5 separate regions of the Homo sapiens genome follow, and regions 2, 3, 4 and 5 are each linked to region 1. Evidence: fine-mapped expression QTL. A gene starts in region 1. Each other region holds a variant in brackets. All regions are shown on one strand. Distances are from middle to middle. Region 1 holds the start of NLRP1 (NLR family pyrin domain containing 1). Region 2 holds the start of LOC101928044 (zinc finger CCHC domain-containing protein 9-like). Region 3 holds the start of DERL2 (derlin 2). Region 4 has its middle 26 kb from the start of NLRP1. Region 5 overlaps NLRP1 (NLR family pyrin domain containing 1).

What was found. PIP is the estimated chance that this variant, and not a neighbour inherited with it, causes the effect.
Region 2: its variant is fine-mapped to the expression of NLRP1 in sigmoid colon (GTEx, PIP above 0.99).
Region 3: its variant is fine-mapped to the expression of NLRP1 in whole blood (INTERVAL, PIP above 0.99).
Region 4: its variant is fine-mapped to the expression of NLRP1 in whole blood (TOPMed, PIP above 0.99).
Region 5: its variant is fine-mapped to the expression of NLRP1 in whole blood (INTERVAL, PIP above 0.99).

Annotation. Positions count from the first base shown.
Region 1 is chr17:5,582,186-5,587,045 of GRCh38, forward strand. NLRP1 (NLR family pyrin domain containing 1) reads right to left here and starts at 2,324. Exons shown (of 17, transcript NM_033004.4): 1 at 1,502-2,324; 2 at 485-661. The coding sequence starts at 1,772. RefSeq lists enhancers at 1,662-2,861, 2,133-2,392, 2,413-2,712.
Region 2 is chr17:5,508,917-5,513,776 of GRCh38, forward strand. It overlaps LOC101928044 (zinc finger CCHC domain-containing protein 9-like), which reads right to left and starts at 3,810. Exons shown (of 1, transcript XM_047437231.1): 1 at 3,036-3,810. The coding sequence starts at 3,711. The coding sequence ends at 3,124. It also overlaps a transcript of NLRP1 not described here. The variant T/C (reference allele first, on the strand shown) is at 2,579.
Region 3 is chr17:5,484,409-5,489,268 of GRCh38, forward strand. DERL2 (derlin 2) reads right to left here and starts at 1,770. Exons shown (of 7, transcript NM_016041.5): 1 at 1,661-1,770; 2 at 743-808. The coding sequence starts at 1,753. MIS12 (MIS12 kinetochore complex component) reads left to right here and starts at 2,158. Exons shown (of 3, transcript NM_001258217.2): 1 at 2,158-2,276; 2 at 3,788-4,181; 3 at 4,415-4,860. The coding sequence starts at 4,455. RefSeq lists enhancers at 1,428-1,607, 1,648-1,707, 2,328-2,427, 2,668-2,777 and silencers at 1,878-2,037, 1,987-2,154. The variant G/A (reference allele first, on the strand shown) is at 2,574.
Region 4 is chr17:5,608,423-5,613,282 of GRCh38, forward strand. No RefSeq gene overlaps it. Among named protein-coding and RNA genes, the nearest start is that of NLRP1, 26 kb to the left of the region's middle. The variant C/T (reference allele first, on the strand shown) is at 2,848.
Region 5 is chr17:5,531,535-5,536,394 of GRCh38, forward strand. NLRP1 (NLR family pyrin domain containing 1) reads right to left here. Exons shown (of 17, transcript NM_033004.4): 9 at 2,363-2,454; 10 at 1,770-1,850; 11 at 1,288-1,450. LOC124903902 (a long non-coding RNA gene) reads left to right here. Exons shown (of 4, transcript XR_007065590.1): 2 at 2,045-2,166. Among named protein-coding and RNA genes, the nearest start is that of MIS12, 47 kb to the left of the region's middle. The variant C/T (reference allele first, on the strand shown) is at 2,442.

The DNA of each region.
Region 1 (4,860 bases):
GTTGAAGTAGAGGGGCAATTTTATTCTCTTAGTAGTGAAGAGAGAAGTCATGTGAGGGAGCTGGCTTGGGCCGAGGACTAAGCCTAGCCTCTTCTTGGGGTCTGTCTGGAAAACAGAGTCCTCCTTGGAACTTCTGGACCACCCTGACCCTAAGGATCTTCAGAGCCCATCAATATTATGAGCTGAGTTCTCGGGCAAGGACCATGTCACGAGTTGGGCACCCAGTTGGGGAAGACTCATTGCCTGACCCACATGGGTCTCAGCTTCCCCATCTGCCACATGGGGAGGGATGCAATCTCAGCACCGGAAGGTCCCTGAAAGATCAATTTCAGGCCTACCTCTCACAGCCCATCCTGGCTCCCCTATCCTTCCTCTGCTGTCCCCCATGTCAGGTCCCCATGCACAGACATGATCCTCTGGGTGGGGCCCACCAGCTGATTCACAGCTCCACCCAGGGCTGTCAGCCTGCCTCAGCAAGCCTCACCTCTCCAGCGGCGTCCAGATGTGTCAGGCAGCTGTCTCAAAACCCTTCTCTCTGAGCCCTGGGTGCACCCCGCCGGCAATTCATGGATCCAGGGCATTAGCACTGCGGTGGAGGTGGGTTGGCTGGGAGACCCCAGGTGGGGTTCACTTGGGCTGTAGGGGAATGAGGGAGAGTGGCCTACAGGAAAGAGACAAAGAGGTTGGAGACACATCAGAGGGGCAGGGGCAAGGTGCCAGGGAACTGAGCTGGTCTCCTCTCTCAACCAAGAGAGGTCAGGATACACCAGTGAACCCGCTGCAGCCCTCTACAACTTCCTCTAGAGGCTTGTCTGAAGAATGATGTTCTTATAGATACTGCTAGGCAAAAAATCCTCATCTAGGATCAGGAAATTTGCATATCTGTCTTGGTCCTGACTATCTCCCTGTGTAAATCACTACTCCTACTGAGCCTCAGCTGTGCTTTATTGGGCCAACGGCATCTGCAACCCAGGGTGGCTAATAGTAATAATAACAGCAGCAGCAGCAGCAGCAACAACAGCAATGGGAGATCTTATTTATTGAGCACTTACTGTATATCAGACTCTGTGCTAAATGTTTAACCTGGATGATCTCTTTTAACCCTCACACAGCCCAGGGAGGCGGGCTCTCACTCTCCCATTTTGCAGACAGAGAAATAGGCAGAGAGCAGTGAAGTGATTGGCCCAGGGTGATAGTGCCAGGACTGGTGATAGTGCCTGACTCCCAAGTCCGTGCTCATAACTACAATGCCAGGCGAGTACCGGGAATGCACTTGAATAGAAGAGGGTGTGGGGCTCTGAGGTGCAGCAAGGGCCCCCCCAGCAAGCCTCCTGGCTCCAGCATAGTCTGGGGCCTGGATCCCCCTTTGAGAGGGCAGTTCCATGTCACTGCTCAGAGGAAGGCCTGGCAGGGAGGGCTCAGTGGTGGGGTCCCAAGAGGGCAGGGCAGGCATGAGGGCCAGGGGATGTCCCGCGGGCAGTGGGGTCCTCTGTCCACTCACCTGCCCCTTCCTGGGCTTGGGCGCACAGTGACCTCAGCCCCATCTGCTCCCAGGTATGGAGGGCTAGGTCCCAGGCCCGCTGCTCCCCATACTGAGCCACCAGGTACGAGGCCACCTCCATGCCACTCGTCTTCTCTGGCTGAGCGGGTGTCTCACCCGAAGAGCTCCTGGAGTGCGCTTTATTGGCGAGCAGAAGCTGGAACTCCTTCAGCTCCTCCTTCTTCAGGAACTCCAAGTAACAGGCCAGGCGGCCCCAGGCTCCGCCAGCCATCTCTGTCCCGGAGTTAAGAGGGTGTCTGGGGGATGTTCCCAGGTGGTGAGGGTATCAGGCAGGCAGAGAACAGTGCTGTCCTTTGCCTTGGCTCTTACCGTCTCTTATTCAGCATTCGGAACCCAGTTTTATAAATCCCAGGGCACCTACAGATAGACGCCGATAGAGGGGGAGTGGTAGGAAAAGCCAGGGGAGGGAGGAGCCCAGAGGGGCCTGCAAGACACTGGAAGAAGTCAGCTGATAGGGAGGTCCTGGGATGGGGTCCAGGGCCAGGCAGGGAGGGTGAGGGTGAGGGGAGATGTGGTGACGGGAGATGGGGTGTGGGCAACGCTCACTGTTCTGTGTTCCTCAGATTCTTCCCTCTCCTGGGTCCTGGACTCCTGAGATCAACCCTTGAGCTGCAAGGCTGAGAAGAGGTGGGGTGGGAGGAGCCGCAGAGCAGGGAATGGGCTTTCAGAACCCAGAGTGGAGCCCCGGGCTGCTGGCTCCCAGGTTTCTTCAGACCTCTCCAGGCCCTGGGGCACCAGCCAGCAAGAACAGCGCCTAGTCAACAAGAGCAGGAAGGAAACGTCACCCAGAGGAAACCCACAAGGGGCGTGGCCAGGGGGTAGGATCAAACCAGGCCTGGGTAGGCCAGACTCAGAGTCACAGATTCAGATGGGCCACATGGCATCTATAGGCGGACCAGGAGCACAGGCCCAGACCAGCTGACGCTGCAGCAGGTACAGGCCCATACTAAACACGGTGTGTGCACCTCCACATGGGCACTCCGCCAGCCCATCATCTAGAGCCTGTCTGCAGAGCCAGGATGCAGACTCTCCGAGCAGTTGTGTCTGCAGCCCAGGCCCAGCCTCTCAGGATGGGTGGGGCCCCCTGTGTCTGCCCGGGCAGCTCCTTATTGGGAAACATTAGAACTGGGCCAGGGAGCATTTTTCCCAGCCTCTCATGGTTTTGGGAGCTTCTTGAGTTGCACTGCATGTCCTGCCATGCTACCAGGGGCACTAAAGCATGTGTCCCAGGCCCAGGGGGCTGTTTGCCTTCTGGGCAGCCCAGCACTTAGCTGGTGAACATTTCCACCTGAAAGCAGAACAGCCCCTTCCTCATTCCTGCAAGCAGGCCTCGGGGAGCCAGGGGCAGACTTCCTCTTTCGTGGAATCTGCAAGATGCCAATGACTTCAGGTTGAGGAATGACATTGCCTACTCATTTGCTGATGTAACACACCACCAGGAATTTCTGGAGATGCTTTGGTTTCACTTGGACTGGCAGAGCCCAGGCTTCAACCCACGGCTTGCTTGGACAAGGACTCCTTATGTGCCTGATTTATTTCTTTGAGCCTCAGTTTGCCCATCTATTAAATGGGACATCATAGGTTTACCAAGAGGCTTCAATTCAGCAAAAGGTCTTAGAGTCTCTCTCTCTTTCCCAGGCTGGAGTGCAGTGGCAAGATCTCGGCTCACTGCAAGCTCCCTCCACCTCCTGGGTTCCAGCGATTCTCCTGCATCAGCCCAGCTTCCTGGGCAGTTGGGATTACAGTCACTCACCACCACGCCTGGCTAATTGTTTTGTATTTTTAGTAGAGATGGGGTTTCACCATGTTAGCCAGTCTGATCCGAGGTGATCCGCCCACTTCGGCCTCCCGAAATGTTGGGATTACAGGTGTGAGCCTCCGTGCCTGGCCTAAATAAATTTTATAAATGTTAGTTTTAAAAAATGGCTAATAAGCACATTGTAGGACATTCTAATATCAGATTGACCAGAAGTGGAAAAGTGCTGTGCTAAAAGTGGGATGATCGGGAGGCTCTGAGCACTCCGTGAAGGACCGTGAGACTCCATGTAGCGGGAGGAATGGCCTGGAGGAGGGCTGTGTGGGCTTTTTTTCCTCCTCACACCAGCCAGTTCTGGCACCAACTCTCTAGACACCAACTGGTGTCCTACAGTGCAATTCTGACACTGACTGCCTGGAGTTGGCATCAAACCTCACAGGTTTAGGGTTTCAGTGAAGAGCTGGCCTCATATCAGATGCCAGTTGCAAATGGGGTGCCCAGACCACTGGCATCTCTGTCTGACTTGGTGACAAATTCAAGGGTTCCCACAGTCCCCGGCAGGTTCAATAATTTGCTGAAATGACTCACAGGACTGAGAAAAGCACTTTATTTATTATTATCGGTTCATGATGGAGGATACGACTCAGGAATAGCCCAACGGAAGAGATGCCGAGGTCAAGGTGTGGGTGGGGGAGGGGCACAGCGCTTCCTTGCCCTCCCGGGCACCCTACTCTCCCTGCCCCTCCCTGCTTCACTAACCTGGAAGCTCTCCAAACCCCAAACAAACAAGACTGTGGGGTTTTCTCGGAGGTTTCACTTCACAGGCATAATTCATTAAATCACTGGCCGCTGGAGATCCACTCAACCTGTTAAATAGATCAGAAACCTGACCCTTCCCACCACGCCCACTGGGGCTGCTGGTCCAGCCTTCAGTCGTCTCTTACTGGGATCACTGTGCTAGCCTTCCACATGTTCTCCACCCATGCTGATGCTTCCCCTTTACTGTCTACTCTCAGTCTAGAAGCCAGAATTATCCACTTAAAGCATAAATTAGGTCAGGTCACTTCTCAGCTCAAAACTTTCCCATACTCCATCTCACTCTGAGTAAAAACCAAAGTCCAACCAAAGGTGTGGTGACTCGTGCCTGTAATCCCAGCACTTTGGGAGGCTGAGGTGGGAGGATCGCTTGAGTCCAGGAGTTCAAGACCAGTCTGGGAAACATGGCAAGACCCTGTCCCTATGACATAATATTAAAAAACTTCCCAAATCCGGCCAGGTACAGTGGCTCATGCCTGTAATCTCAGCACTTTGGGAGGCTGAGGCGGGCAGATCACCTGAGGCCAGGAGTTCAAGACCAGCCTGGCTAACATGGTGAAATCCCATCTCTAATAATTATAATACAAAAAAAATTATCCGGGTGTGGTGGCGCACGCCGTATTCCTTCAGGAGGCTGAGGCAGGAGAACTGCTTGAACCTGGGAGGCAGAGATTGCAGTGAGCCGAGATTGCACCATTGCACTCCAGCCTGGGCGACAAGAGCAAAA
Region 2 (4,860 bases), 73 kb before region 1:
ATATTAGTTTCTGTGCAACAAGGCCAAAAAAATCTAAGTAATGGACCCAGTGGCCATTTTCAGGATTAACAATACTCTGTGATGGTCTGATTCATGCCCACGCAGACAAAGGTCCTTACCTAACCGCCTAGATGGCCCCGCATTGCCTAGCAACTACCTGCTTAACAGCAGTTGCTAGGAAACCAAGAACACAGCAGGACTCCTGACCAATAGCACAGCGTCCATACTACTGCTAGACTTCCCTTCAAGTTCTCTCCAACAGTCATGCTCCTGTCTAGCCTTTCCTCTTCTTCTCCTATTCTCCTCCTTCTCATTCCTACCTGCCTGGGGCTAACCTGTGAGTAGCACTCAATGGGGTCCCCACAATCATACAACCTGACACAACACAGGTAATCACAGGTTCCAGAGGACCTTCTTCCTTCCCCTGCTTCCTTCTTGCTCCAGGACTGGGGCCTGGACCAGAGTGTGTGCATGGCTCAAAGTTTAAATCTGTAGTTATCCCACCATTGAGACAAGTATTGCTCATGGCCTCTATCGGATTCTAGCACCTGGCAAATCCTACTCCTTGGGAGAGTGACTCCTTCAGGAAAGGCATTAAGCTCAGCCCAGGGCTCCCACCATCCATCAGAGTGCCTGGTGGAAGCATTCCATGATTCTTCCGTTTTTCTGAGATGGAGTCTCACTCTTGTTGCCTACACTGGAGTACAATGGCGTGATCTCGGCTCACTGCATGAGCCAGCACGCCCAGCTCATTTTGTTTGTATTTTTAGTAGAGATGGGGTTTTGCTATGTTGGCCAGGCCGGTCTCAAACTCCTGACTTGAGGTGATTCATCCGTCTCAGCCTCCCAAAGTGTTGAGATTACAGGCGTGAGTCACCTCGCCCAGCCAAATCCATGATTCTTGAATGCATTCTTTGACAGGGGTCCCTGTTCCAAGTGGCCCACTTTAAAGAGAAAGAAAACTTCATGTAGGGTGGATTAGTCTGAACACAGTGATCCTGGAAGACTCCAATTTTCCACCATTGTTGAGAATGATCCCTGCTGCCCTGCACTTCTCATTCCCATCATCTCCATGTGCTGTTCAACCGTCACATCCATTCTGAGGAAGTTGCCATCTATCTCTATTCAAAAAGATCTTTCTTCTATTCTTCTTCTTCTTTTTTTTTTTTAAATAGAGACAGTGTCTCACTATGCTGCCCAGGCTGGTCTCAAACTCCTGGACTCAAGCAATTCATTGGCCTCAGCCTCCCAAAGTGCTAGGATTATAGGTAAGCACCCAGCCAATTATTTTTATTTAGAGACAGGATCTTGCTCTGTCTCCAGGGCTGGAGTGCAGTGGCATGATTATGGCTCACTGGAGCCTAGGCTCAAGGGACCCTTCTGCCTCAGCCTCCAGAGTATCTGGGAATACAGGCATGTACCACGATGCCCGGCTAATTAAAAAAACTGGTTTTTTTTTTTGAGATAGAGGCTCGCTCTGTTGCCCAGGCTGGAGGGCAATGGCGTGATCTCGGCTCACTGCAACCTGTGCCTCCCACGTACAAGCAATTCTGCTGCCTCAGCCTCCCGAGTAGCTGGGGTTACAGGCACCTGCCATCATGCCCAGCTAATTTTTGTATTTTTGTAGAGACAGAGTTTCACCATGTTGGCCAGGCTGGTCTTGAACTCTTAAACTCTTAACCTCAGGTGATCCGTCCGCCTTGACATCCCAAAGTGCTAGGATTACAGGCATGAGCCACTGCATCTGGCCAAAAAAATGAAAAAAAATTTTTTTTTTTAAGAGACGGGGTCTTGCTATGTTGCCCAGGCTGGTCTTGAACTCCTGGTCTCAAACTCCTGGTCTCAATAGATCTTCAGGCCTTCGCCTCTCAAAGTGCTGGGATTACAGACATGGGTGCGTATTTCGTATCTCCTTGCCACTAGAATATAAATTGCTTGAGAATAGATACTCTGGCCTCTGTTATCACTGGCACCTACAACAGCCTCAGGCTCAAAGAAGCTAAGATTTACTGTCTGCCTAGTGTTGTGTACCAGCTCGCCCAGAACAACTTCCCACTCATGAGCTCACCTAGTCAAACAACCGTTTGACGCAAGCTTTGCTATTCCCTTCTTACACATCTGAAAACCTGTTTCAAGATCACACATCTAATGGGTGGTAGAGCCAAGAATTTGATTCCCAGCTCACTGCCTGTCCCTCAGAATTCTAGCTGTTGCTATTAGAATCCAGATCCAGGCCGGGCACGGTGGCTCACACTTGTAATCCCAGCACTTTAGGAGGCCGAGGCGGGCGGATCACTTGATGCCAGGAGTTCGAGACCAGCCTGGCCAACATGGTGAAACCCCGTCTCTACTAAAAATACAAAAATTTATCCGGGTGTGGTGGTGGGCGCCTGTAATCCCAGCTACTCGGGAGGCTGAGGCAGGAGAATCGTTTGAACCCGGGAGGTGGAGGTTGCAGTGAGTGCAGTGAGCTGAGATTGCGCCACTGCACTCCAGCCTGGGCGACAGAGCGAGCCTCCGTCTAAAAAAAAAAAAGAGAATCTGGATCCAAAGCGGACATGCATGTGTGTCTCCCCCA[T/C]CCCCACACACTTGTTTGTGTCTGGCCTTTCTCCTACTCCAAGACTGGCTCCACTTCGGGGCTCGCTGCCATGGAGACGACTCCAGATTTAGGAATACATTTCCTAGGCTTCCGGCAACTAACGTGAGGACTTGCTGGGATGAGGGACGGGGAGGTCTGCAGAAGGAGGCGGGGCATGCGGGGGTTGCGGGGCTTAGAGGGTTGGCGGAGCCCCTCCTCGCGTAGGTCCTTCCTTCTTTCCCTCCCTCCCTTTCTCTTTTCTTTTTCTTTCTCTTTCTCTTTCTTCTTTCTTTCTCTTTCCTTTCTCTCTTTCCTTCCTTCCTTCCTCTTTTTCTTCATTCCTTCCTCTTCCTCTTTCTCTTCCTTTTTCTTTCTCTCTCTTCTTTCTTCTTTCTCTCTGTTGAAAATTGTTTTTGACCACACCCAGATCATACTGATATTTACAGTATAGTCCTGGCTACAAGGGAGCCCAGCTGTAACTTGTGAAGTGGGCCTGGTTTAGAAAGTAACAATGAGGTGGTAACTAATGACAGTACTAGTTGTTATCAAAAATTAACACCTTTAGGTATTTTTGTTTTGGGTTTTTGTGGTTTTGGTGCATCCACAATGTCTTCATAGTCTGCACTTATTCCCTTTGCCCACAGACCAACTGTGGCCATTCGATCTGAATTCTCACTTTCAGGGCAATCTTTCTTTAAATGTTCCACAGAGCCATGAAGTTGGCAACCACTACCATCAGCATAGAGTCCTTTGGGATTATCAGGACAAGATCTAGACAGGTGCCCCATTTCTCCACAGACAAAACATTCTGCAAAAGGACATTCGCCAAGAGGCGGGTCTACTTTAGCCTTACACTTGGTTATTTCGTGATCTGTGGACCCACACTTGTAACATCTTCTAGTGCCCATATCTTGATTTTCAAGGGCGGCAGGGCAATCCGCAATTCCACGACCAGGTTTTCTACAATGGAAACACACCATTGCATTTTTCTTTGCCCCTTGTCTTTTAAATCTTCTTACTTCCCATTGACTGTCCTCTTGGAGGAAGGGTTGTGTGGAGAGTGGAGGTCTGCATGTGGTAAAGGAGATGGGTGGGTGGGGCGTGAAGGACCCGAAAGACAAGGCCAGTCTCATGGGTGTGTGACCTGTGCGGTCACACAGAGCCCTGAGCTCAGCAGGGCCTGGCGCTTGATTTCATGTTCTGTTGTCACCGTCTTGACATTCTTATCATTTTTGAACGAGGGGCCCTGTGTTTCCATTTTGCACTGGGTCCCACAACTGCTGGAGCTGGTCCTACAGGAGGGTGAAAATTAGCATATAATGAGCAGTGAGGACAACCAGGAGTCCCTTTCATTGCCATCTTGGCTTTGGTGGGCTTTGGCCAGCTTCTTTACCGCATCTTATCAGTGGAGTCTTTGTGACCTGCATCTTGTGAAGCCAGTCCTGCCCACCTCCTGTGTCACCCCCAGCTTAGAGATCTGCATACAGTAAAATTACTACTAGCTTTCTCCTGAGGCCCTGCAAGCTAAAGCTTATACCTTGTGATACAGGCGTGTCAGATTGCCACCACTTTCCTGCTTTATAACTAAAGATGCTTTTGAGTCTAATACCTGGATAGACTGTGTCCAGCATTAACCTTTTTTTCTTCTGTTCTCATAAAAATCTCTCTTATTAAAAATCTGTTTGGCTTTGTATTTCAGACAACAGAAGACTAGTTTTCCAGCCTATTCACTTAGATTCCAAATGGCATCTGATCTCTTATTTTTTTCTTTCTTATTTTTTTAAAGAGACAAAGTCTATGTTGCCCGGGCTAGTCTCAAAAGCCTGAGCTCAAGTGATCCTCCTGCCTTGGCCTCCCAAAGTGTTAAGATTACATGCATGAGCCACCATGCTTGGCTTTGATCTCTTCTTTAAAACTGGGCTTAAGTATTTTATGAATTATCACTAGGTGCTATTTGATTTTAAAAATATTTGTTATATTCATCAGGTGTTCGGACGGTTCAAGTTTATGTCTTCCAGGCTACAACAGTTTCAGAGAAAAATAATTAGTCCAGTGTTCCAGCCTGTGCCACTGCAGAAAAGATGGAGTCCCTATAAGTCATTCGATCAGGTACGAAGACATTTCTATGCCTCCAGAGCAGGTAGGGATGATGGCCCCTGTTCAGCATGAAGCAGTGACAGAAGATAGATCTCTGTCCTTCTACAACCTCTTAAGATTAAGGACGAGTATGTAATGTCTGAGGTGGGGATAAGATAGGAGGTTGGCAGGACTGGTTTCACAAA
Region 3 (4,860 bases), 98 kb before region 1:
GCTAATTTTTGTATTTTTAGTAAGAGACAGGGCTTTACCATGTTGGCCAGGCTGGTCTTGAACTCCTGACCTCAGGTGATCTGCCTGCCTCAGCCTCCCAAAGTGCTGGGATTACAGGCGTGAGCCACTGTGCCCAGCCTCTTTTGGCATTTTAATCACTGGAAAGGACCATCTCCCATTGTAATCTAATAAACCACCATATAGCTTTAGATGTTTGGAATTTGGTTAGTATGATCTGATCCCTGGAAGACAGATCACAATTTAAAAGCACTAACAGAATTGAGTTTCTGGACCATGGTGATAACACCAAGGTGGTGGGTGTGCCTAGGTGCTGAATGGACAAAATAAGGCCATCCCTGTGAGACAACCCCTAAGCAGCTAGCTAGTCAGCCTCCTCTCATAGGACAACGTTAAGTCTAAACCAGTGATTTCCAAATACAGGAACTGGACACATCAAAACGATGCAGGGAACTTTAAAAATAAAACACAGATTTTAATTCCTACCCTTGCAAATTCTGATTTGGTACTTGTTGAGGAGCTTGAGAATCTCTTCAAAGTTCCCTAAGGGATTCTCAAGTCCAACCAGGCTGCAGAATCACTGCTTTATATCCTGACAAGGCAACTTATAATCAAAGGTCCCCACTGGGTTCTTTTTTAGGATAGTGTATAACAGGATTTGCTACTAAACAGTAAGAAAAAGAAGAAACTGAAGCATTAATCACTATTGTGATGAACCACTTACTTGAAAGTGTTTAAAGATTAATTCAGGATTGAAGTACAACTGAAAAGGTGTGATCAATTCCAACTGCTGAAATAGAAAAAGAGCTTCTTAAAGCAAATCAAGAAACAAAATTTCATCATTTACAACAAAGAATTAGTAGGTCTAGCAATTTCCAACTCTCGGTCACTTAGACGTGATTTCCTTTAAGCCTTTCTTCTTAGGCCAGAGGAAGAGGTTGGTAAAGAATTCTCTAGGATTGGTAGAATTCTTTGTATCCTCAATACCTAACACAAAAAAGTCTGTTTTATGTTGCAATAGTTGAGGCTGACATGAAGAAATGAGGCAGACAGGTGGTGATATTTTAGACACAGGACAAATAAAAACAGCTGCTATGAATCTACCCACCACATGGGCACCACCTGAAACAGCTGTATGAAACAACAAAACTCACTTGAAATAACGGAGACTGGAGACCCTGCCACCGTTAGGGCTGGGTACCTCCAGCTAGCCCCTTATTTAGATCCAGAGACCCTTTTTATTATAAGCCATTCCCCTCTCGACAGTTTCCAGCTTGCTTTCCCCATTCCTGTTTCTTCACTAAACGGACCTTCCTCTCACTAGTCACCATGGTACCACCTGGCCATTGGCAGAGCTCTCGGACACATTTCTTGGGTGGGAGGCTCCCGCAACCCTAACCCGCTATAGGTCCGGCGCTCATCTCTTAGAAACTGACCTGACCCCCCATGAAGCAGCACTCCCTTCTCGCGTCACTGGATAAGCATTCTTGGCGCCAACTCGAACCCCAGAGTAATCCCTGTACGCCTCCACCCATCCCCGGGACCAGCCCCTCTGGGCCTCCCCGAGGCCCAAACCCCAGTTTCCTGAAGACCCAGTCATATCCAGCCCAGATAATGAGAAGGTGGCACTGCAGCTGCTCACCACGGCGGCGGTGGTGAGGACGCAGGCAGTGGTGTAGGCGCGGCTGACCGGTGGGATCTGCAGGTACTCCAGCCGCAAGCTCTGGTACGCCATCTTCCCCACCGTCGCCTGCCCCACCCCCCACCCACCCCATTTCCCCTTCCGCCAGCAGGCCCCGGCGGCGGGGCGGGCCCAAAGGCCCCCCGCCCACTTTAGTTTTCCCGCGACTGCCCAATCAACGCCAAGCAACCGCAATCCGTAGAGACCTAAGGAACGCACATCCGCCAATCACGAGTTGCGTCGCCACCGCCCCCCCCCAGCGCCCCATCTCCCCACCCTCTCTTCTCCACCAGCCAACGTCCGGGAAAAACGAGTAAGTACAGGTTCCTTCTGCCAATCCCCGCCGGCCACAGCTAACTTTCCCGCCCGGCCCCTTTCTGTCATAATTGAGGTGTCCACAACCAGCCAATCAGGAACGCGAGAGTATCCCGCGTTTGCTTTCGCTCGCCGAGGCGCGTATCAGTCGGAATTTTGGGGAGCCAACCGCGCCGTCTGTCCCTGGCAAGCCAGCGGCGGTTTAAAGGAGGTGGCGGGAAGCCTGTGTGTGCTTCAAATCGTCACCCTCATGGTCGCTCCGGTAAGTGCTGCGGGGCAGCATTTTCTCTGAGGAGGAGCGGGGACGGGCGAGACTGGCATAAGCGTCTTCGCGAGGGAGCAAGGCGGCCTGTGGGTCGGCCTCACCCCGGCCTCCGACCTGAAGATCCCAGCATGCAGCGCGGGCGCGGGGCCCGACGGAAGCCGGGAGCCGGCCGGAAGCAGTTCCTGCGCTCTGGCTTCTGGGTCCTGTCCTGCGCGATCGCGGGGTCTTAGACAGCTCAACTCGCCGAGATGACCTGGGCACCTCTGCGTTGAATCGGCAAATACTGATCAAGCC[G/A]CATTTATTCTGCTCTCAGGAACTCTAAGTCTAGCAGAGAAGATGAGGCGGTAGAAGTTCATCAGTCAGTGCCCGAAGAGAGGTCCTAATGGGAATTCGAAGAAAGGAGTTAATCAAGGAAGTGTATTTTTTTGTTGTTGTTTGAGATGGCGCCCACCTGTAATCCCAGCTACTTGGGAGGCTGAGCTAAGAGGATCACTTGAACTTAGGAGGCAGAGGTTGTAGCGAGCCGAGATCATACCACTGTACTCCAGCCTGGGCGAAAGAGTGACACTTTGTCTCAAACAACAACAACAACAAGAAAATTAGCCAGGCATGGTGGCCTGCACCTGTTGTCCCGGCTACTTGGGAGACTGAGGTGGGAGGATTGCTTGGGCGCGGGAGGTTGAGGCTGCAGTGATCTGTGATCGTGCCACTGCATTCCAGCCTGGGCGACAGAGCGACAACATGTCTCAAAAGAAAAAAAGAAAAACAGAAAGAAATCCTACCTTACATATACAGCCAAACAGTTATAACCACTCCATATTTAACCATTACAAACGTAAATTTTTATTTTATTTTATTTTTTGAGACAGAGTCTCGCTCTGTTGCCCAGGCTGGGGTGCAGTGGCACAATCTCGGCTCACCGCAACCTTCGCCTCTCGGGTTCCAGTGATTCTCCTGCCTCAGCCTCCCGAGTAGCTGGGATTGCAAGTATCCACCATCACGCCTGGGTAATTTTTGTATTTCTAGGAGAGATAGGGTTTCGCCATGTTGGCCAGGCTGGTCTCGAACTCCTGACCTCAGGTGATTCGTCCATCCGGCCTCCTAAAGTGCTGAGATTACAGGCATGAGCTATCGTGCTCAGCCTACAAACATAAATTCTTAAGATTGGCTGCATCTTATCTTCCCATAAGATTTGACTGTACTGCTTATTGCAAATTATTTCATAAAGTGCGTCCTAAATTCACCTGATAATTGAAGTAGCAGTTTGTTTTAGCTAATTGCCTTTATCTGAAGGAATAATAAAATTTCTCTTATTTCTATGACAAGCAATATCATTTCATCTCAGAAAAAGATGCCTAGGTTGAATTCCCACAATGACAAGGAGATAGGGGTTTTATTTTCCTAGATGTTTATATTTGAGAGGAATTACTCGCAGACCCTTGAAAAAACATGTCAGGGTTATAAAGCTGACAAGGGACTTACTCATCTTCTAATTGGGTTTTTTTCAGATGGCTTGGCTGGAGGACAAGCAAATTGAGGACATTGGCAACGGAGTGATCAAAATGATAGATCATGAGGCCTAAAATGAATAAGGAAAGAAGAGAAGTGGCAGAGGCTGAGAACAGAAAGAGAGGGTGGAGGGGCTGTAAATCTTGAAGATTAGGGTATAATATGAGTATATGGGTAAGAATTGGAAGAATTGTGTAGGAGGCAGTAGTCAAAAAGTAGAAGCAGTTTGGAAGAGTAGTTACAAATATCAAGAGCCAGGTGGCTAAAAGGTGGAGCTATAGGTCATTGAAGCTCAAGAAACTGAGTCTCTAGGGCATTGGTTAAGTCATCTGTCTAGACTTCAAAGTTGTCTAGGATGATAATTCAGAAGACTGATCTGTGCCAAAGTCACAGGTAAGGGAAGTGAACAACGAGGAGGGGAAAAGGGAGGGTATAGGCTGATGGAAGGAGCCTCAGAGAGGCAAAGAGTTTATATCCTGTTGTGGGAGTGGCATCAGGTATAAAGGAACACAAACTCCTTATTTTTTATTGATTTGCTTCTTTGTTTGCTATCTGTAATGTGATTGGTTACTTCCTGCAGAAGATTTTTTTTTTCCAAATGAATTATTTCCTTTTTACATTTGCAGGTTTTTCACGACTGAAAACAACATAGCAAAATAAGCCAAGATGTCTGTGGATCCAATGACCTACGAGGCCCAGTTCTTTGGCTTCACGCCACAAACGTGCATGCTTCGGATCTACATTGCATTTCAAGACTACCTATTTGAAGTGATGCAGGCCGTTGAACAGGTTATTCTGAAGAAGCTGGATGGCATCCCAGACTGTGACATTAGCCCAGTGCAGATTCGCAAATGCACAGAGAAGTTTCTTTGCTTCATGAAAGGACATTTTGATAACCTTTTTAGCAAAATGGAGCAACTGTTTTTGCAGCTGATTTTACGTATTCCCTCAAACATCTTGCTTCCTGAAGATAAATGTAAGGAGACACCTTATAGTGAGGAAGATTTTCAGCATCTCCAGAAAGAAATTGAACAGTTACAGGAGAAGTACAAGACTGAATTATGTACTAAGC
Region 4 (4,860 bases), 26 kb after region 1:
CCAGCCAGAGGCCCTCAGGTATGCACAAGAGCAGCAATGCCCCAGACCTCCAAGGACTCAGGACCTAAAGTAGAGCGAGAAGCCCAGATACAGTCTCCCTACGGGAGGGGCACGGTGAGCTCCAGGCCTCCACATCTGGACAGAGAGCTCTCATCAGCTTGGACGAGCCAGATCAGGTCCCTCTGCACATGACGCCTTTCTCCTTTTCAAGCCATTCTATAAACTCCCAGTGCTGTGGCCAACCAAACAGGCAGGGCTGGAGCAAGAACCATGTCCTCCCTTCGAATCAAACATTTCCCACAAACCTTTTTCTCCCCAAAGTCACTAATAACAATCTTCATGCCCACAGCATCTGCTAACGATTTATTATTACACGGGTAGTATAACATTTTCATACCCACACCATTTTTCATCCTAGGTGGAGTTAATTGCAAATGACTCCCAAGCAAACAGCATTTCCTCCAGCAATCCATTGCGAACAATGGAGCTCCGATTCCCCCCACCAAATCCTGCCGCCTTGCCCCAGCTCCCATGACCTTCTCTCATTTATCACCATTGCTCTAAATGAGTCACACACACCAATAGAAAAGGCCCTGAAACTTTCAACTCAGTGGCTCCTTTCTGCTAAAAGCAGCTCTAAAAGCATGCGGACTTTCTTGAAAATTGAGTTCTAGTTTCTCATCAAATGGAAAAAGAACTTTTCCTTAGGGGCATCTCTCACCACCTATGTCCATATGACGTATGTGAAGTCGTGATGTCTTGGAGGTGGCTGAGGGGCTTTCAGGTTCATTTGGTTGGTGACAGAATGCTGCCAGGTGAGAGCAAGGCTGCAGAGAGCAGAGCTTTCCAAATTGCTGCATTTTCTACAACTCTAAGGTAATAAAACTGGAATAGGTAACAATTGATGTTTGTATAATTCTACTAAGTGTCAGAGACTCTTCTAAGTCCTATATGTATATTTTACATACATTTAACATATATATTAAACAGCCTCCTCATAACCATTCTGAGGTAATTACTATTAGTATTTCCACTTTACAGGTGAGGAAACTGAGGCACGGAGAGATAAGTGACTTGTGACTTGCCCAACATCACAGAGCTGGTAAGTGTTGGAGTCAAGATGCAAACCCAGGTGATCTCCATCCAGTATGAGCTCTCATCTGCTCTTCTCTCTGGCCTTTTTGTAGTGTGTTAACCTCTTTCCTTTCCTATGTTGACATAATCGTTTCAAAGACTATACAGAAAAGATGTCAAGTGAAGCAGTGTGAATGAAGACGGTGAGTTTTGTAGAGAGGGCTGACAGAGGGCTGCGCCTTTCATAGGGTTTTCTACTCCTACCAAGCAATAAGAAGAGCCCCCTCTCCCTCCACCCAGTGGAATCATTTCCCCCAGTTCTGTGTCTATGAGAGAGCAGAGGGAGAGGACATCCCTGGAACTGGAAGACCTGCATTTGAGGACCAGCGCCCTCTCTTTCCAGCTGTGTGGTGTGAAAGGAATACCAGCCCAGATTCTGGCATGGCCTTCCATTAACTAGCTGTGTGCTCTCAGCCATGCTGTTTCTTTCTCTGGACCTAAATTCCTGCATCTTCAGAAGAAGGGTGAGCTGGATGATAGCCAATGTTACATCTTGCTCTAAGTGAGGCAATTCTAGTTCAGGATACAACAATCATTTCATCTAATGAACCAACTTCAGATCATTTTAGTGGTGGCCACAAGGTGTACCTTCTGGAGATTAATTCCGAATTCAAGTTCAGGCTCAGAGGAAAAGGTGGCTTGATCTATTTGTGAGTCTACCACAGACTTTGGAGGGGGAAAAGTGAAAGTTACAACAGACATCTGACATTCTAGTTCCACTGTCCTCACTGTTTTATTTATTTATTTTTTGAGACAGGGTCTGGCTCTGTCGCCAAGGCTGGAGTGCAGTGGCACAATCTCAGCTTACTGCAACCGGGCTCAAGCAATCCTCCTGCCTCAGCCTCCCTAGTAGCTGGGACTACAGGTGCACACCACCACGCCTGGCTAATTTTTGTATTTTTCATAGAGACAAGGTCTCACTATGTTTCCCAGGCTAGTCTTGAACTCCTGGGCTCAAGAAATCCACCGCCCTCGGCCTCCCAAAATGCTGGAATTACAGGTGTGAGCCACTGCACTCAGCGTCCTCACTTTTTACATGAGGAAACCAAGCCCTAGAGAGGTTAAGTGACTTCCGTTAAGCCTCACGGTGAGGTAATGGTGGAGTTGGGATTAGAAGCCAATTCTGCATATTTACTATGGAATGTCACTGTATGAGGAGTTGGCAGAATAGCTAACAATGACCGACATTTATTGAAAAATCACTATATCCTCGCTATGTGTGGTAGACGAAATTATTGTTCATCACTCATTCCTTCCCCCTGAATCTCCAATCCACAGGCAAATGAGTGAGAAAGTAAGTGCTTGTTGTTGTATGACACTGAGCTTTTGTGGTTGTCATGCAGCAATAGCTGACCGATACAGTAATTGGTATCTGAAGTGGAATGCTTTCATAACAAAAACCTGAAATACGTGGCACTGGTTTTGAGACTGGGTGGCAGGTGGTGAGGGAAGTGTTGTAGGAGGCTAGTAAAATGGCACTCATGTTATGTAATGGCAAAACGTTTGGCAAAGCTGTCACTTGGAATAGTCTGGAAGGTAAAGAATGTGCCTGAAGCATTTGTCACATTGGATGAAAAAAATCTGGGGCAGGATGTTGAAAGTATGTGCTGACTACTGCTAATTGCATTAAGCTCAAGGAGGAAGTGGCCGGCTTGCAAGCAGAATTTTAAGGAACTATAAAGAGGCCAGAAATTGCACGGTGGGAAAACAAAA[C/T]AATGTCTTACCAAACCGGAGGTGTGGCCACTACGATATAGCCTTGGGAGATAAAATTTAGGGGTTTCCTCTGTAAGATTTTTGTTGTTTGTTTTGCAGCCAAAGCTGACTGATGGGTACTCTACCAGTCACTTTGCATGCATTATCTCATTTAACCCTTATAATAATCCCAGAATGTAGATGTGATTATTTCCATTTCACAGATGCTGAAACTGAGGTGTAGAAAGGTTCTGAAACAGGCCCAAGGTCACACAGCTATGTGAGGCAGAGCCAGAGTTAGAACTCAGTGGTGGAGGCTGGGCTCGGTGGCTCACGCCTGCAATCCCAGCACTGTGGGAGGCTGAGGCGGGCAGATTGCCTGAGGTCAGGAGTTTGAGACCAGCCTGGCCAACATGGTGAAAGGCTGTCTCTACTAAAAATACAAAAATTAGCTGGGCGTGGTGGCGCCTCTGATCCCAGCTACTCAGGAGGCTGAGGCAGGAGAATCGCTTGAACCTGGGAAGGGGAGATTGCAGTGAGCTGAGATGGCACCATTGCACTCCAGCCTAAGCGACAGGGGGAGACTCCATCTCAAAACAAAAAACAAAAAACAAACAAACAACAACAAAAAAACCTCAGTGGTGGATCTGACCCTAAAACCCATACTCTTACCAGCAAGCTTTTCTGCCTCTCATCCTGCAAACGCTGCCGTTCTCCTTACTCTGAATGTGTGTGAGTGTGGTAGGCAGAATAATGGACCTCCAAATATGTCCCCATCCCAGTCCCTGGAAATGACAAAGAGGAATTAAGGTTGCAGATGGAATTAAGGTTGCTAATCATCTGACCTTCAGAAAGGGAGATTATCCTGGATGATCTGGGTGGGCTCAATGTAATCACAAGGGTCGTTATAAATAGAAGAGAGAGGATCAGAGAGACCTTTGAACTGCTATGCTGCTGGCCTTGAAGATAGAGGAAGGGGCCATGAGCCAAAGAATGCACACAGCCTTCAGAAGCTGGAAAAGGCAAGGACACAAATTCTCCCCTAGAGCTTTCAGAAGGAACGCAGGCTTGCTGACACTGTGATTTTAGCCTCGTAGTCTCATTTTGGAGTTCTGACCTCCAGAACTCTAAGATGACAAATTTGAGTCACGAAGTTTGTGGTAGTTGGTTACAAATAGCAACAGGAAACCAATACGAGTATTCCTAAATGTGTGCTTTATGTGTATGCACAACATGTCCTTTTGTTTTGAGACAGAGTCTCACTCTGTCGCCCAGGCTGGAGTGCAGTGGCGCGATCTCAGCTCACTACAGCTTCCGCCTCCCGGGTTCAAGTGATTCTCCTGCCTCAGCCTCTGGAGTAGCTGGGATCACAGGCACGTGCCACTAAGCCTGGCTAACTTTTGTATTTTTAGTAGAGACGGGGGTTTCACCACACTGGTCAGGCTGGTCTCGAACTCCTGACCTCAGGTGATCAGCCTGCCTTGGCCTTCCAAAGGACTGGGATTACAGGCGTGAGCCACTGTGCCCGGCCCAACATGACTTTCTAAGTGTATACCTCTCCATAAAAGTCTACATGTCTTGGGTAAGGGGAGCCCTTTTGGTGGCGAAATAGGGGTGAAGAAGCCAGCAGATTCCTAGGACGGCTGCAAGCTTCAGCTATTCCTTTATTAGTTGGCCACAACACATACAGCACTGTAATTGAACTCAGCAAGCATGATATGCCTGAGACCCACAGGTAAGTATCTATGTGAGTGAGTGGTATAGCCATCCGTGTTCAGGTACTCACACACGTGTGTGAATATTCATACGTGCACCTGTGTGAGTGAACATGTCATCTTTGCTCGTGTGTGTGTAGACAGATGTGTCTATGTATGTGTATGACTATGTGCAGGCATGTGTGTACATGGGTGCGCATGCATAAGGCACTTGAGAACACATATGTACACCTCTGTGTGTTATGTGTGTTGTGTGCACATGCGTGCACCCTGGATTCACTTGGGCATTTTGGGCCTGAGATTAGAACCCTCCTAACCC
Region 5 (4,860 bases), 51 kb before region 1:
ATGCTAAACCCTTAGAATTGGAAACAACACTTTTATAGAGATCAGAAGTGATTTTCCCAAGGCTCCTCAGGTGGGTTAATAGTGGGTCCCGGGATGCCCCAGCTTCTGTAGGTGTGAGCTGGGAGTGACGCTGTCTCCTGGTTGAGATGATGTCTGTGGCAGTGTTTGGTGAGTGGTAACATGTTATATAAGAGATCATGAGTATGACTATAGAGAATTACTACTAGTGCGACTGTAAGCCCTGGGAGGGCAGGGCTGCCATATTCATCTTAGGGTCCCCAGCTACTAGTACAGTCCTTAGCTCATTAGTGGCTGTTAATAAAACAGGAGCATACAGATTAAGAGAGTTAAGTGAGATTTAAGAAATATAACAAAGAAAATAAAATGAGTGGACCTTGTTTGGATCCTGATAAGAACACACCAACTGGCCAGGCGCGGTGGCTCACGCCTGTAATCCCAGCACTTTGGGAGGCTGAGGAAGGTGGATCGTCTGAGGTCAGGAGTTCGAGACCAGCCTGTCCAATATGGTGAAACCCCCATCTCTACTAAAAATACAATTTTCATTTTTCACACGTGGTGGCATGTGACTGTAGTCCCAGCTACTAGAGAGGCTGAGGCTGGAGAATCGCTTGAACCTGGGAGGTGGAGGTTGAGGTAAGCCAAGATTGTGCCATTGCACTCCAGCCTGAGTGACAGAGCAAGACTCTGTCTCAAAACCAAATCAAACCAAACCCAACCAAACCACAACACCAACTATAAGAACATGTTTTAGACAATTGAGCAATTTGAATATGGATTGGGGAGTAGATGAAATGAAAGACTTACTGCCAGCTTTGTCAGATGTGATATTGGCATTGTAGTTATGTTATGGAAGAAAAGGTTTTTATTTTTGTTTTTTGAGATGCGTAATGAAATATTTAAGGGTAAAATCACCCGATGTCTTGGATTTAAAATACTGTAACAATAACAAAGAGGGGGAAAGTGAACAGCTGAAACGAATTTGGCAAAACAGTGGCTGAAGCTGGGTGATGGGTACATGGAAGCTCCTTGTACTATTTTTGTATATGTTTGAAAATTTTAAGTTTCATAAGAAAACATCTTTTTCCATATGAAAAGCAGACACCCAGTGTCTCAGCCCTGTCTCTGCCTGTTGTCTTGGCAAGAGGAGGGGACCCAGTGGTGAGTGTGAGTTGGGGGTAGGGGGTGGCGCTGACTGTCTGTGGGGACCCAGGATGGGCAGTGGGGTGCGGGAGGCCAGCCTGGGACCAGCAGAGCCCCCTCACTCACCGGTACAAGTTCTTTTCTTTGTCAACTACCTCAGTAGCCACAGGCCCCGTGGGGCCCCAGAAGTCATCGTCAGTCCCCAAAGGCTTCGTATGCAGGTCCCCTTGAGAGGCAGGAGAAGGCACGCACAAGAGTTCCACCGGTACTACCTCTGGGGAGCTTTCCTCTGAAACAGCAAGGCAGCGGTCAGCTCCAGATTCTCCCGCCTGGCCTCCCCTAGCCCCTATGGCTGCACTGTAAGGGGCCCTTCCCAAGGCTGGCCTGCCTGGACCATGGCAGGGAGTGTGTCTGCAGCTTCTGCTCCTGCTCCATGGCTGCCTGCCTGCTGTCTGGGGAGCCCCACTCCAGTGCCTCCAGCCCAGCCTCCGCCCATCTCCCCTTCCCCACTGGAATAGAAGTGCCACTCTCCCCAGCATGCCCAGGTGGGCAGGTTGAGAGAGAACATGGTTCAAAAGATGAAAGGGGCCAGGCACCGTGGCTCTTGCCTGCAATCTCAGCAATTGGGAAGATCTTGCTCACGTCCAGGAGTTTGAGATTAGCCTGAGCAACATGGGAAGCCGCCCTCTCTACAGAAAAAAGAAAAATATCAGCCAGGCATGGTGGTGAGCATCTGCAGTCCCAGTTCTACTCAGGAGGCGGAGGTGGGAGGATTGTTTGAGCTCAGAAGGTTTAGGCTGCAGTGAGCCATGAACATGCCACTGCACTCCAGCCTGAACACTAGAGTGAGACTCTGTTTTTTTTTTTTTTTTTTTTTTTTTAGATGGCAGGGCAAAGATGGAGATGTGATTCCCAGGCCTTAGCAGCCAAGAATGGAAGAGGCCGGACCCCGGTTCAGGGTTTGATACATGCCATAGACGTTCTGGAGAGGGGAAGCACCAGCCGGTGGGTCTCGGAGAGAGGGTAACGGAAATCCAGCCAGTTCCTAGGAGTGGGAGCTCTCTCGTGGGGGTAGCACCCTCTTGGGTAGGAAACCTGCCCCGTCCCACATCAGGGGCAGAGGGATGGAGGGAATGACCTCCCACAGCTGACCTCCCCCAACCCCTGTCACGATGCTCCCAGCCTTGCCCCTTCAAACTACCTGATCCGAGTCTCTGCCGCTTGAGTGAGGATGTGCTATTACTCATCTCTCCCGTATCCAGGCCCTCAGTAGGGGTCAT[C/T]ACACTTGGTTTCCTGGACAAAGAATTGTTCATTCTGCCTAAGATCTTGGAGGAAGCGAGGGCTGTCCACATGACATTCCCACTAAAAATTCAACTCCTCCTCGGGTCGGGTGCAGTGGCTCATGTCTGTAATCCTCGCACTTTGGGAGGCCGGGATGGGTGGATAGCTTAAGCTCAGGAGTTCGAGACCAGCTTGGGTAACATAGTGAGACCTCCCCACCTCATCTCTGCCAAAAATACAAAAATTAGCTGGGCATGGTGGCATGCACCTGTATCCCAGCTACTTGGAAGGCTGAAGTGGGAGGATCACTTGAGCCCAGGAGGCAGAGGTTGCAGTGAGCTGAGATTGTGCCACTGCACTCCAGTCTGGGTGACAGAGCCAGACCCTGTCTCAAACAAAACAAAACAAACAAAAAAACTCCATCCGAATTTGAACTCAATCCTGTGGTTCTTCTGTGGTCCCTGTCTCTGTGAGCAGCCTCCATCCACCCATGCATCCAGGCTAGAGCTGGGGTGTCATCCCAACTCCTTCCTCGCCCACCCTAAGAGCTGATCACCTTGACAACACCTCTCAAATAGCTCTTCTTTCTATTGTCTTCTCTCCACCTCCATGACCTCCACCTGAGTCCCAGGCCCTGGCCTCTGTGGCCCGCACCACTGCAGCATCCTCTGAAAGGTCTCCCTGCTTCTGCTCGGGTCCCTCTGCCGCCCATTTTCTACACAGCAGCCAATCTTGAAATAGGAACCTGACCCATCACTTGGCTGCTGCAACCCTGTAATGTCGCTTCATTGCTTCTGGGGGAAAATGGAAAGTTTTTAACATAGTCCAAAAGGGCTTGCCAGGGCCTCTGTCACCCTCCAATGTCACCTGGGCCACTTTTTCCTGGCTCACTGACCTCTAGTCCATCGGTTCTCAAACTGTGCGCTTAACAATCATCTGGAAGGCTTGTTAAGACACAGATTCAGCCGGGCGCGGTGGCTCACGCCTGGAATCCCAGCACTCTGGGAGGCTGAGGCGGGCAGATCACAAGGTCAGGAGTTCGAGACCAGCCTGGCCAACATGGTAAAACCCCGTCTCTACTAAAAATACAAAAATTAGCTGGGTGTGGTGGCATGCACCTGTAGTCCCAGCTACTCTGGAGGCTGAGGCATAAGAATGGTTTGAACCTGGGAGGCAGAGGTTACAGTGAGCCGAGATCATGCCATTGCACTCCAGCCTGGGTGACAGAGCGAGACTCTGTCTCAAAAAAAAAAAAGACACAGATTCCTGGGCCCCACCCCAGAGATTCTGATTCAGTGGGTCTGGAGTGGGGCCTGAGAATTTGCAGTTCTATCGAGCTCCCAGTGAGGGTGATGCTCATGCTGCTGGTCCACGGACCACAGTTTGAGTAGCTGCTCCTGACGCCTGGCCTCCCATTCCTCCAGGAGGCTAAACTCTTTTCTCTCTCAGAGCCTCTACTTCTGCCTGGACTCCACCCCTTCTTGGGCCCAGCCAACCTGTCCTGTCTTTCAGACCTCAGCCCAGATCCTCTTGACCAGGTCAAATAGGCCCATAGGTGCACTCACACTGACCCCAGGTGCATTTGCGCAGACACTTCTGGGATAACCTGTGCCTGTCTCCCTGCTGGACTAAGCTCCTGGAGGTTGGGTTGTGTCTTTCTTGTTCACTGCTGTGTCCTTAGATCCCCAAACAGTGCCCGACACATAGTGGGTCTGCAGGGAATGTTTGTTCAATGAATAAATGGCTCCTCTTAAGCCTAGGAGCTGTTTTCCTTCCATTTCAGGTGAGCCACAGCAGCCAGGAACCTGGGGACAGATGAGCTTCATGGTCAGGTGGAAATGCACCCAACTGGGAGAATGTGGGAGCTGCAGCAGATTCCTCGGGGAAGGGAAGATGGACTTTCCTGGCCCCGGGGCTTGCCCCTCAAGTCAGGGGTGTGTGTGGTGGTGGTGGTGAGGGTGGTGGGTGACGGTGATGGCGAGGATGGTCTTTTTCCCAGGGCACAGGCGCTCTCTCTCTCTGTCTTTATCTCCCTCTTGTGATCATCGCTTTCATTGTTCCAAACCTTCTCTGTTCTTCATGGAAGGATTCCTGGACTAGAGGCCATTTGGTATCATGCTGTGCTGGGTCCAGGGGATTCGCTGGCTCACCCACCCACTGACTTTTTCTTGTTCTTTTTTTTTTCTTTTTGAGATGTTGTCTTGCTCTGTCACCCAGGCTGGAGTGCAATGGCGTGATCCTGGTTCACTGCAACCTCTGTCTCCTGGGTTCATGTGATTCTCCTGCCTCAGACTCCCAAGTAGCTGAGACTACAGGCGTGCGTCACCACACCCAGCTAATTTTTGTATTTTTAGTAGAGACAGGGTTTCACCATGTTGGTCAGGCTGGTCTTGAACTCCTGACCTCATGATCCACCTG